Linked DNA regions of Homo sapiens. The protein of the gene in region 1 purifies or fractionates together with the protein of each later gene. This does not show direct contact. Each region holds a gene or a part of one and is shown in the gene's direction. Other genes may lie near its edges.

The links.
Region 2: the proteins of ASPHD2 (region 1) and XXYLT1 purify together in Homo sapiens (co-immunoprecipitation; one large-scale study listed by IntAct). This does not show direct contact.
Region 3: the proteins of ASPHD2 (region 1) and METTL9 purify together in Homo sapiens (co-immunoprecipitation; one large-scale study listed by IntAct). This does not show direct contact.

What each region holds. Positions count from the first base shown.
Region 1 is NC_000022.11:26,439,224-26,442,508, forward strand, and holds part of ASPHD2 (aspartate beta-hydroxylase domain-containing protein 2), read left to right. Parts: intron 1-3,235; coding exon 3,236-3,285. UniProt on the Homo sapiens protein: May function as 2-oxoglutarate-dependent dioxygenase.
Region 2 is NC_000003.12:195,069,884-195,072,228, reverse strand, and holds part of XXYLT1 (xyloside xylosyltransferase 1), read left to right. Parts: intron 1-2,117; coding exon 2,118-2,345. UniProt on the Homo sapiens protein: Alpha-1,3-xylosyltransferase, which elongates the O-linked xylose-glucose disaccharide attached to EGF-like repeats in the extracellular domain of target proteins by catalyzing the addition of the second xylose.
Region 3 is NC_000016.10:21,620,017-21,623,673, forward strand, and holds part of METTL9 (protein-L-histidine N-pros-methyltransferase isoform 1 precursor), read left to right. Parts: intron 1-3,657. UniProt on the Homo sapiens protein: Protein-histidine N-methyltransferase that specifically catalyzes 1-methylhistidine (pros-methylhistidine) methylation of target proteins.

The sequences.
Region 1 (3,285 bases):
CCCCATCTCTACTAAAAATACAAAAATTAGCTGGGCACGGTAGTGCACACTTGTAATCCCAGCTACTCGGGAGGCTGAGGCAGGAGAATTGCTTGAACCCAAGAGGCAGAGGCTGCAGTGAGCTGAGATCATGGCACTGCACTCCAGCCTGGGCGACAGAGCACGATTCTGTCTCAAAAAAAATAATAATAAATAAAGAAAAATCGAAAACTCCACAATCACTTTAATTCCTCTGTTAATAGTATAACAACTAGCATTTATATCATCATGTCCAGTTTTATAACAGCCTGTTCTTTGGAGTCAGGCTGACTCAGCAACACTAAATGGTAACTTTTTAGCAGGTCATTTAACTTCTTAGTTACCCCATCTGGAAAGTGGGTGAAGTGATACCTGTTAAGTGTGTATTTAGCACAAAGCTGAGTAGGAAGACACAGTAGGTCTTCAGTTATTGGTAACAAGGATAGAAGTCCCATAGCAGCCCTGGAAGGTTCAGTATGCTAATGTCCCCTCTTTACAGGTGAGGGTATGGCTCAGAGAGGCTGAGTGACTTGCCCAAAGTCACACAGCACATAAGAGTCACAACCAGTCGTCTGTCCCCAAGTCCTCCGTCCTTCTGTCTCCTCCATGTGGCCTCTTTATTTGAATTATTACTGTGAACGTACTTCCTGGAACCATTATTTCTGGTTCAAAGAATACATTAAAATACTCTGGCTGCTGGAAGGAAAGCTATTTCATTTTTATGCTAAAGGACATTAAATCAGAGGGGAATGCCAACTGGCCCAGGGTCATTGTGGTCACAGTGAGTCACTGAAGACAGATGAGACCACCACCCATCCCAGCTCCTCTTCCAGGACTCTGCTTCCCCCTGGGTGGGCCTTCCTGAGAGCTGTTGGGCTGACCCAACCCCTTCTGAAATCATTAGATGGCCACGGTGGCCCCTTCTTTTCTGGACATCAAGGTAGTGATGGGGGCCAAGTGTTTCTGCAGACCCTTGTGTTGGAAAGGGCGACTGAGGGTCACACATGGCAGTGTTCCAACCGGACCCCACTGGCCGGTTGAAGCATACGGCTTATTTTTTATTTTTTATTTTTATTTTTGAGACAGAGTCTCACTCTGTTGCCCAGGCTGGAGTGCAGTGGTGCGATTCGCCCAGGCTGGAGTGCGGTGATGCAATCTCGGCTCACTGCAACCTTCGCCTCCTGGGTTCAAGCAATTCTCATGCCTCAGCCTCCCGAGTAGCTGGGATTACAGGCGTCTGCCACCATGCCTGGCTCATTTTGGATAATTAGTAGAGAGAGGGTTTCACCATGTTTGAGACCAGGCTGGTCTCGAACTCTTGGCCTCACGCGATCTGCCCACCCCTCAGCCTCCCAAAGTGCTGGGATTACAGGTGTGAGCCACTGTGCCCAGCCAAGCATACGGCTTCTTACAAAGCTGCCAGTCTATTTCCTCTTGAACCTAAGCCATTACCTTAGAAGTGTCCTCCAGTTTCCCAGAATGAGGGCAGACGAAGAGCACGCCATTCTCCAGCCTCAAAACGGATTAAAAGGCTAGAACCCAAGGAGGAGAACACTGTGTGAGCCTTTGATTTTTTAATCGCAACTGAGATAGTCCTAGAGGGGAGACTACAGTAAACACAGTTACTGGGTAAGGCAAGGTTCTAAACCCAACCTCCCTGGATTTCTGGGGGTCCCCTGGTTAGGCTTCAGAGTGTAGTGCAAATGTCAGTCTGTGACTTTCATAAAAGGAATCCATGACCCAGAATAGATGAAGCCAATGAAGGAATGAATTTTTGCCAAGAGTGCAGTGAAGATCTAGATGGTGGCTTATAAACAACAAAAATGTAGAACTCACAGTTCTGAGGCTGGAAGCCCAAGATCAAGGTGCCAGCAGATTTGGCGTCTGGTGAAGGCCTGCTTCTTGTTCATAAATGACACCTTCTCACTGTGACTTCACATGGTGAAAGGAGGTGGCCAGGAGCAGTGGCTCTTGCCTGTAATCCCAACACTTTGGGAGGCCAAGGTGGGAGGATAGCTTGAGGCCAGGAGTTCGAGACCAGCCCGGTCAACATAGCAAGACCCCATCTTTACAAAAAAAAGTTTAAATTAGCTGGGCATGATGGTGCACACCTATAGTCTCAGCTACTCAAGAGGGTGAGGCTGGAGCATCTCTAGAGCCTAGGAGGTGAAGGCTGCAGTGAACTATGGTGGAGCCACTGCATTTCAGCCTGGGCAACAGAACAAGACCTTGTATCTAAAAAAAAAAAAAAAAAAAAAAGATGTCAGGCCAGGTGCTGTGGCTCATGCCTGTAATCCCAGCACTTTGGGAGGCTGAGGCAAGCAAATCTCTTGAGGTCAGGAGTTCGAGATCAGCTTGGCCAACATGGTGGAACCCCATTTCTATTAAAAATACAAAAATTCGGCCAGGTGCAGTGGCTCACGCCTGTAATCCCAGCACTTTGGGAGGCTGAGGCGGGTGGACACGAGGTCAGGAGTTCAAGACCCGCCTGGCCAAGATGGTGAAACCCCATCTCTACTAAAAATACAAAAATTAGCCTGGCACAGTGGCAGGTGCCTGTAATCCCAGCTACTCGGGAGGCTGAGGCAGGAGAATCGCTTGAACCCAGGTGGCAGAGGTTCCAGTGAGCCAGGATCGCGCCACTGCACTCCAGCCTGGGCGACAGAGTGAGACTCTGTCTCAAACAAAACAAACAAAAAAATTAGCCGGGTGAGGTGGTGGGTGCCTGTAAGCTACTCCAGTGCCTCCCAGCTACTCCGGAGGCTGAGGTAGGAGTATCATTTGAACCTGGGAGGTGGAGGTTGCGGTGAGCCGAGATCACACCACTGCATTCCAGCCTGGGCAACAGAGAGAGACTCCATTTCAAAAAAAAAAAAAAAAAAAGGGAAAAGAAAAAAAGATGCAAAAGGAGGTAAAGAAGCTCCCTTGGGCCTGTTTTATAAGGATGCTGCTCCCATTAGGACCCCACCTTCATGATCTGATCACTTTCCAAAGGCCCCACCTCCTAACACCATCACCTTGGGGTCAGGTTTCAACATGGGAATTTGCAGGGACACAAGCCCACAAGCCTTCAGACCATAGCACGGGCTCCAGAGGTGTGAGGCAGGTCAGGTGCTTTAGAAGTCAAAAACTCTCAGTAAGGCAAATCACCCCCTATCTCCTGGCCTTCCCTGAATCTTGCCTGCCTTCACTCTCCTTTCTCTGGTTTTCCTACAAGGTCTGAAAACTCCAAATGGCTGTGAGCTGGTGGTGGGGGGAGAGCCCCAG
Region 2 (2,345 bases), on another chromosome or scaffold:
ATCGTGTCCTCAGTGTCCTGCCCCCTGCTTCCACCCGGTGTCGACAGCTGCACGGTCCACCCCACGCCTGCCTTTCCATCGTTCCTCATCAGCCCTGTGATCTTTCCTGTGGCCCTGCTGTGCTGGTGCCCTGTGAGGTCCTGTGGACACAAGAGACTGCACGGGCCACACCCCCAGCTGGGTGAGTCCTCTCCCTCCTGGGTACTCTGGACAGTAAAGAAAGATGGACACGTGGGCTCCGTGGAGCATGAGGTAGTCCAGGACCTCGGCGGCCACAGGTCCTGCCTCCCTGCTTCTCGTGCCCTCCCTCCCTTTGGGTCTCTGCTCCACCTCGGTAAACGCTTCGTTCCCACCCCTCGAAGGGTAAATCGAGCTCCTTGGTGGTAAAGCACCCACTGCCCCTAGTCAGAGGGTCCCTCCTCTCTGATGTCATGGTGCCCTGGTCTGCCTGGTAGAATTTTAGCTGCTTTATAACCTGGTCCTGAAATGAACCACTGGGAAGAAATAGGGTAAAATGAACACACAGCTGCCACACTGCATCCCAACCCTGTGTGACCCTATCACCGCAGACTTTTGTGGCAAGATGACAGCATCTCAGTTTGCTTGAGAAGCTTATTTTTGCCAAGGCTGTTACCACCAGGCAGGCACCAGAGCTCGGTTCCACTCACAGCAGAACACAAGCAGTGGCCCTGTGGATTCCCCTGTAAGAATGTCCGGAGGGAATGCTTCCCCCTCGCCAGGATCAGACTCTTGGCACTCTCTGTGATACGTGAGACCTTGAGGAAGGTTCCTCCGTTCCCAGAAGCGGAGCAATGTGCTGGTGCTGAGAAGTGGCCCCTCAGGGCCACCCTGGGCAGGGTCTCCGGTTTTATTCCCCCGTACCTTCTGCTTCATCACGCAGATCCTATCCTGGGTTTGGGTGGGGAAGTCTCTCTGCGGGGGCCGGTGGGGCAGCATCTCCAGGCTGGGAGGCAGAGCTGGTTCTGCCACGATGTGTCCTCCCCGTGAGGACCCACTCCCACGCCTGTCCCTGCCACAGTGGGCCTCCTGATGGTCCTCCTTCCTCCAGGTCACCGGCACGATTGCTGTGGCCCCTCCTCTGTGGGTGTGGGCTTGGACGCCTCTCCCCTCCACCTGCACACCCCTTGCAGCACACATGAGGCTTAGCTATTAAAGAGGCTGGAGGACAGTGCAGCGCTTTAACCCTGGCCCTCACAGGGAGGTGTCTAGGTCTTTCTTCTCCCCTCCAGATGGAAGCATTTGGGTAGAGGACCTAGAAGAGGCTAACACTCCCTGAACTATGAACCTAGATTGGTTTCTAAATCTGCTGAGAGAAAAATTGAACTTGAAGTGACATTCCTTCTAAAGTAGACATCATCCTACATGGCTCTTCTACAGCTGTCTTTCACCCTAACCCATGGTGTGCCCTGGGCTGTCGCAGGCCCCCAGCCCCTGCCCAGCCTTTCTGAAGTGCCAGGCTTGGGGCTCAATGAATGAGCCTTGTTCTAAAGCAGAAAACAGTTCTGTTCCAGTCAGGGTTCAGCTGCCTGCGTCTTGATGAGATCTCTGTTCAGGATTGTGTCCCCTGCTTCTCTCTCCCTTCTCCTTTTCAAGATCACAGGTGAAGACAAGGGGGTGGAAAGTTCTACCTAGATTGCTGCTATCTTAAGAATGTGGACTTTGGAGCCAGATTGTCTGGGTTTAGTCCCTGCGTCTGCTGCTTACTAGGTGTGTGACTTTGGGCAAATACCTTGACCTCTCTGTGCGTCCGTTTTCTTGGCTGTGAAATGATGTATCATCTCAGAGCACCCATCCCCTGGGGTTGTGTGGGGAGTAAGTAAGCCGGTCTAGTATGGCGCCTGGTACATCCTCAGTCAATAATATCAATGTTGGCTGTGGTGAGGACGTAGCAGAGGATGGTAGAAAGAATCTGAGGCTTGGGGTCCAGAGCCCTGGGTTCAGGTCCCAGCTCTGCCACTTGCTGGTGTAGTGATGCGGATTCTGCACCCCGGAATGTGGCAGTGTTTGCATGCAGGCTGGCTGTGAAGACCCAGGGCAGCAGGCCGGCAGGCTGGTTCCCCTGCACACCGGACTAACTCTGTCCTCTCTCTCCACAGGCACACATTCTGGCAGTTCCGCCATGAGAACCCCCAGACCCGGGTTGGGGGCCCGCCCCCCGAGGGGCTGCCGGGCTTCAACAGCGGGGTGATGTTGCTGAACCTGGAGGCCATGCGCCAGTCCCCGCTCTACAGCCGCCTGCTGGAGCCGGCGCAGGTGCAGCAGCTGGCCGACAAGTACCACTTCCGCGGCCACCTCGGGGACCAGGACTTCTTCACCATGATCGG
Region 3 (3,657 bases), on another chromosome or scaffold:
GGAGAAGGGAAGATTTCTGTGAACAGATACGCTGTGGGATTTTTATATGGAAGGAAAGGAATAGGTATAGTCTCTGGTGTAATCAGGCACAGCTACGCCTTAGAAGTTGAGTTACAGCTTAGGGAGATCGACCTTCCTAGCTTGAACTGTTTAAGTCCTTATCACTGTCAGTGTTTAAATTGCTGTTAGGGTTGTTATAGGAAGAGACATAAGGAAGGTGTGAGTTTGAACTGAGTGATTTGAAAGCCCCTTAGCTTTAGCAAGCTGTCTCAGATAAGGTTCTGGTGGGTCTGCATGGTGATAATTGACATGTTTTCCTTCAGTTAGAGATTAATTCGGCATTTCAAAACTTAGAATGCTTTGACCTTTGTTATAACAGTGGCTTAAGTCAGGCTGAATTCCTAATCTGATTCCACCTCCCCCCCTTAAAAAAATCCATGCTTTGAAGTGGGTCGAAGAGGAAGGTGTTAAACCCATCTTCAGATGATTGACCGCCCCAGCCTTCTTTTGCTTTGATGCTAAGTGCCTAAATGGAATTTTCAGGGAAACTTCAGATGTTTGAAATTAGTAATATATCTGGAGTGTACATGGTATGTAAAGATATCTACCACATAAAAAATACTTGGTTTAATTTTTTCCCTAATATACAGCACATAAGCCAAAAATCTGCAGTTTGACCTGCATGGGAAATTCATACTGATTGGCATTCCTTTCATAATATTAGTATGAAGTGAAAACATTTTCACAAAAGTGGTAAATTTTGTGACTATTGGTGCAGTTTGAGGTTTTAATGAGGAAGTAGTATCTTTATTTCCTAAGATTAGAGGTCACCCAATCCAAGATGGCAAGGCAGACTTTCAGCTGAATTTTACATTTTTTTCTTCCTTTTGAGATTAGAGCTATTTTCTATTTCTCTTCAATATCTGGGCCATGAAAAACAGGCTTTTTATTAATTTATATATATATATTTTTAGAGACGGGTCTCTCTCTGTCACCTGGGCTAGAGCATGTGGCGTGATTATAGCTCACTGTAGCCTTGAACTTCCGGGCTCAAGTGATCCTCTCACCTCAGCCTCCTCAGTAGCTGGGACTACAGGTGCCTGCTACCATATCTGGCTAATTTGAGAGAGAGAGTGTGTGTGTGTGTGTGTGTGTGTGTTTTTGTGTGTTGTGTGTGTAGAGACAGGAGTTTCATTATGTTGACCAGGCCAGTCTTGAACTCCTGGCCTCAAACAGTCCTCCTGCCTTGGCTTCCCAGAGTGCTGAGATTACAGGCATGAGCAAAACACACCTTTTTAAATAAAGGTTCTGTAATTTTTTTTTTTTTTGAGACAAAGTCTCGCTCCATCACCAGGCTGGAGTGCAGTGGCACAATCTCAGCTCACTGCAACCTCTACCTCCCAGGTTCAAGTGATTAGCCTGCCTCAGCCTCCCAAGTAGCTGGGATTACAGGCGCATGCCGCCACACCCAGCTAAATTTTTTGTATTTTAGCAGAGATAAGGTTTCACTGTGTTGCCCAGGCTGGTCTCGAACTCCTGAACTCAGGCAATCCGCCCGCCTTGGCCTCCCAAAGTGCTGGGATTATAGGTGTGAGTCACTGCGCCCAGCCAAAGTTTCTGCATTTCAAAAATAGGTCAATAAACAGAAAATGGCCAGGTTTTTCCTTTGTATTCGCAAGTTGTCATTGTTTATGCCAGAAAACCCAATTGTAAAACTAAAGGATGTGGTTTTGATTTTTACAGCAAGACAGTTTTCTTTATATTGTTAGTGTTTCATTTTTTATTTAGGAATTATCAAAATACAGATTGCTTATTTCCTAAGTTTAGAGCTCTCCCAACCCGAGATGGCAAGGCATCTTTTTTTTTGGGAGACGGAATCTCTCCCTGTTGCCCAGGCTGGAGTGCAGTGGTGCCATCTCGGCTTACTGTGCAGCCTCCGCCTCAGCCTCCCGAGTAGCTGGGACTACAGGCGCATGCTGCCACGCCCAGCTAAGTTTTTGTATTTTAGTAGAGATGGGGTTTCACTGTGTTGCCCAGCTGGTCTTGAACTCCTGAGCTCAGGCAATCTGCCCGCTTTGGCCTCCCAAAGTGCTAGGATTATAGGTGTGAGCCACCATGCCTGGCCTTTTTTTTTTTTTTTTTTTTTGAGACAGGATCTTGCTTTGTCGTCCAGGCTGGAGTGCAGTGACACAATCATAGCTCACTGTAACCTCAAACTCTTGTGTTCAAGCCATCCTCCTGCCTCAGCTGCCCAAGTAGCTTAGCTAGGACTACAGGTGTGTGCCACCATCCTTGGCTATTTTTAATTTTTTATAGAGATGGGGTCTTGTTGTGTTGCCCCAGCTGGTCTCAAACTCCTAGGCTCAAGCGATCCTCCCAAAGTGCTGGAATTACAGATGTTAGCTACTGCACCTGACTGCTTTATCATTCTCTAAGGAGAAATATATTTTACATCCTTCTGGAAGTATTAACTCATTTTCTTGAAAATAATAATCACTTGAATAGATACCCTCATTCTAGGTTTAGAAATACTGTTTTAGAAAAAGGAAAATTCTGACAACTTGTTAGGATTCCTGGGCTAATACGCAGTTTTAGTGGGGCTAAGCAATTTGTCTTCATCAGTGGAACTGAGTGAGTTTACAAATAAAAATCACAAAACAGAAGTAAGAATGCACTTGAGCTTCTATAGGTATAGATTTAACTGTCTTAGTGTTAGTCACCTTTTTGTGTTATGAGCATATATTTCTCTTCCAAAATTACCAACACAGAGGCTACCTATCTGAAACTCATTCTGAGGTAGGTTTAGTGAGATTATTCTAGATTAGAACATGCTGATGATGTTTGGCTTCTGCTTCATTGCAGATAGACATCAGATTTTTTTTGTTGTTTTGTTTTTAAAAATCAAATATATAATTTGTGTTTTACAATTTGTGTCTTTAAATTGGCTGCTTAGCTAAGGCGTTAATATATACAAATAGTCCTTTCTTTATTCATTTCCATTTTTTAGAATGGGAATTGATGACATTTTTGTTCTGAAAGTAGTCTTCTTAGTAATGTTTGGAAACTCTTGGAATGAGCTAAATTGAATTTCCAAAATTGCTATTACAGTTGACTTAGTACAACAAAGTGATTTTAAAGCCTGAATGCTCTACTTATTTCAAACAGTATTTAGTGCAATGAAACACCTGCACCAGTAAGGAATCTGACTAGTCCCTGGAAGTTTGTTAGGCTGCTATTTGGAAGAGGCTTTAGTTTGACAAAAATATAGATTGAAAAGAAAATGCAGCTAAGTGCTTTGTGTTTTTAAAATTCTGCTATTCAGAAATGCTCTAAATATCATTATGCTAATGAGGTTTTCAAAACAACCCTCATTATACTTTTAGAATTTTCTGAGCTATCTTACTGTATCTGCTCAACATTACTAAAGACTTGTTTACCAAAGATCCTTTTTTTATGTTTCCTTTTTTACCTGTCTCTATCATAACATATCTCACCTACCACATTCTGATTGGTATAACCAAGCAGGAGTAAGTAATTTGTAAAATTGCCTAATTGTGTGGCTAACAAAGACTCTTGATATAAAAACTCCCCCTTTCTAGAGATAACAACATTGTAGAGGACTGAAAATGTTCTCTGTGTTCTGTGTACGTGTGTATG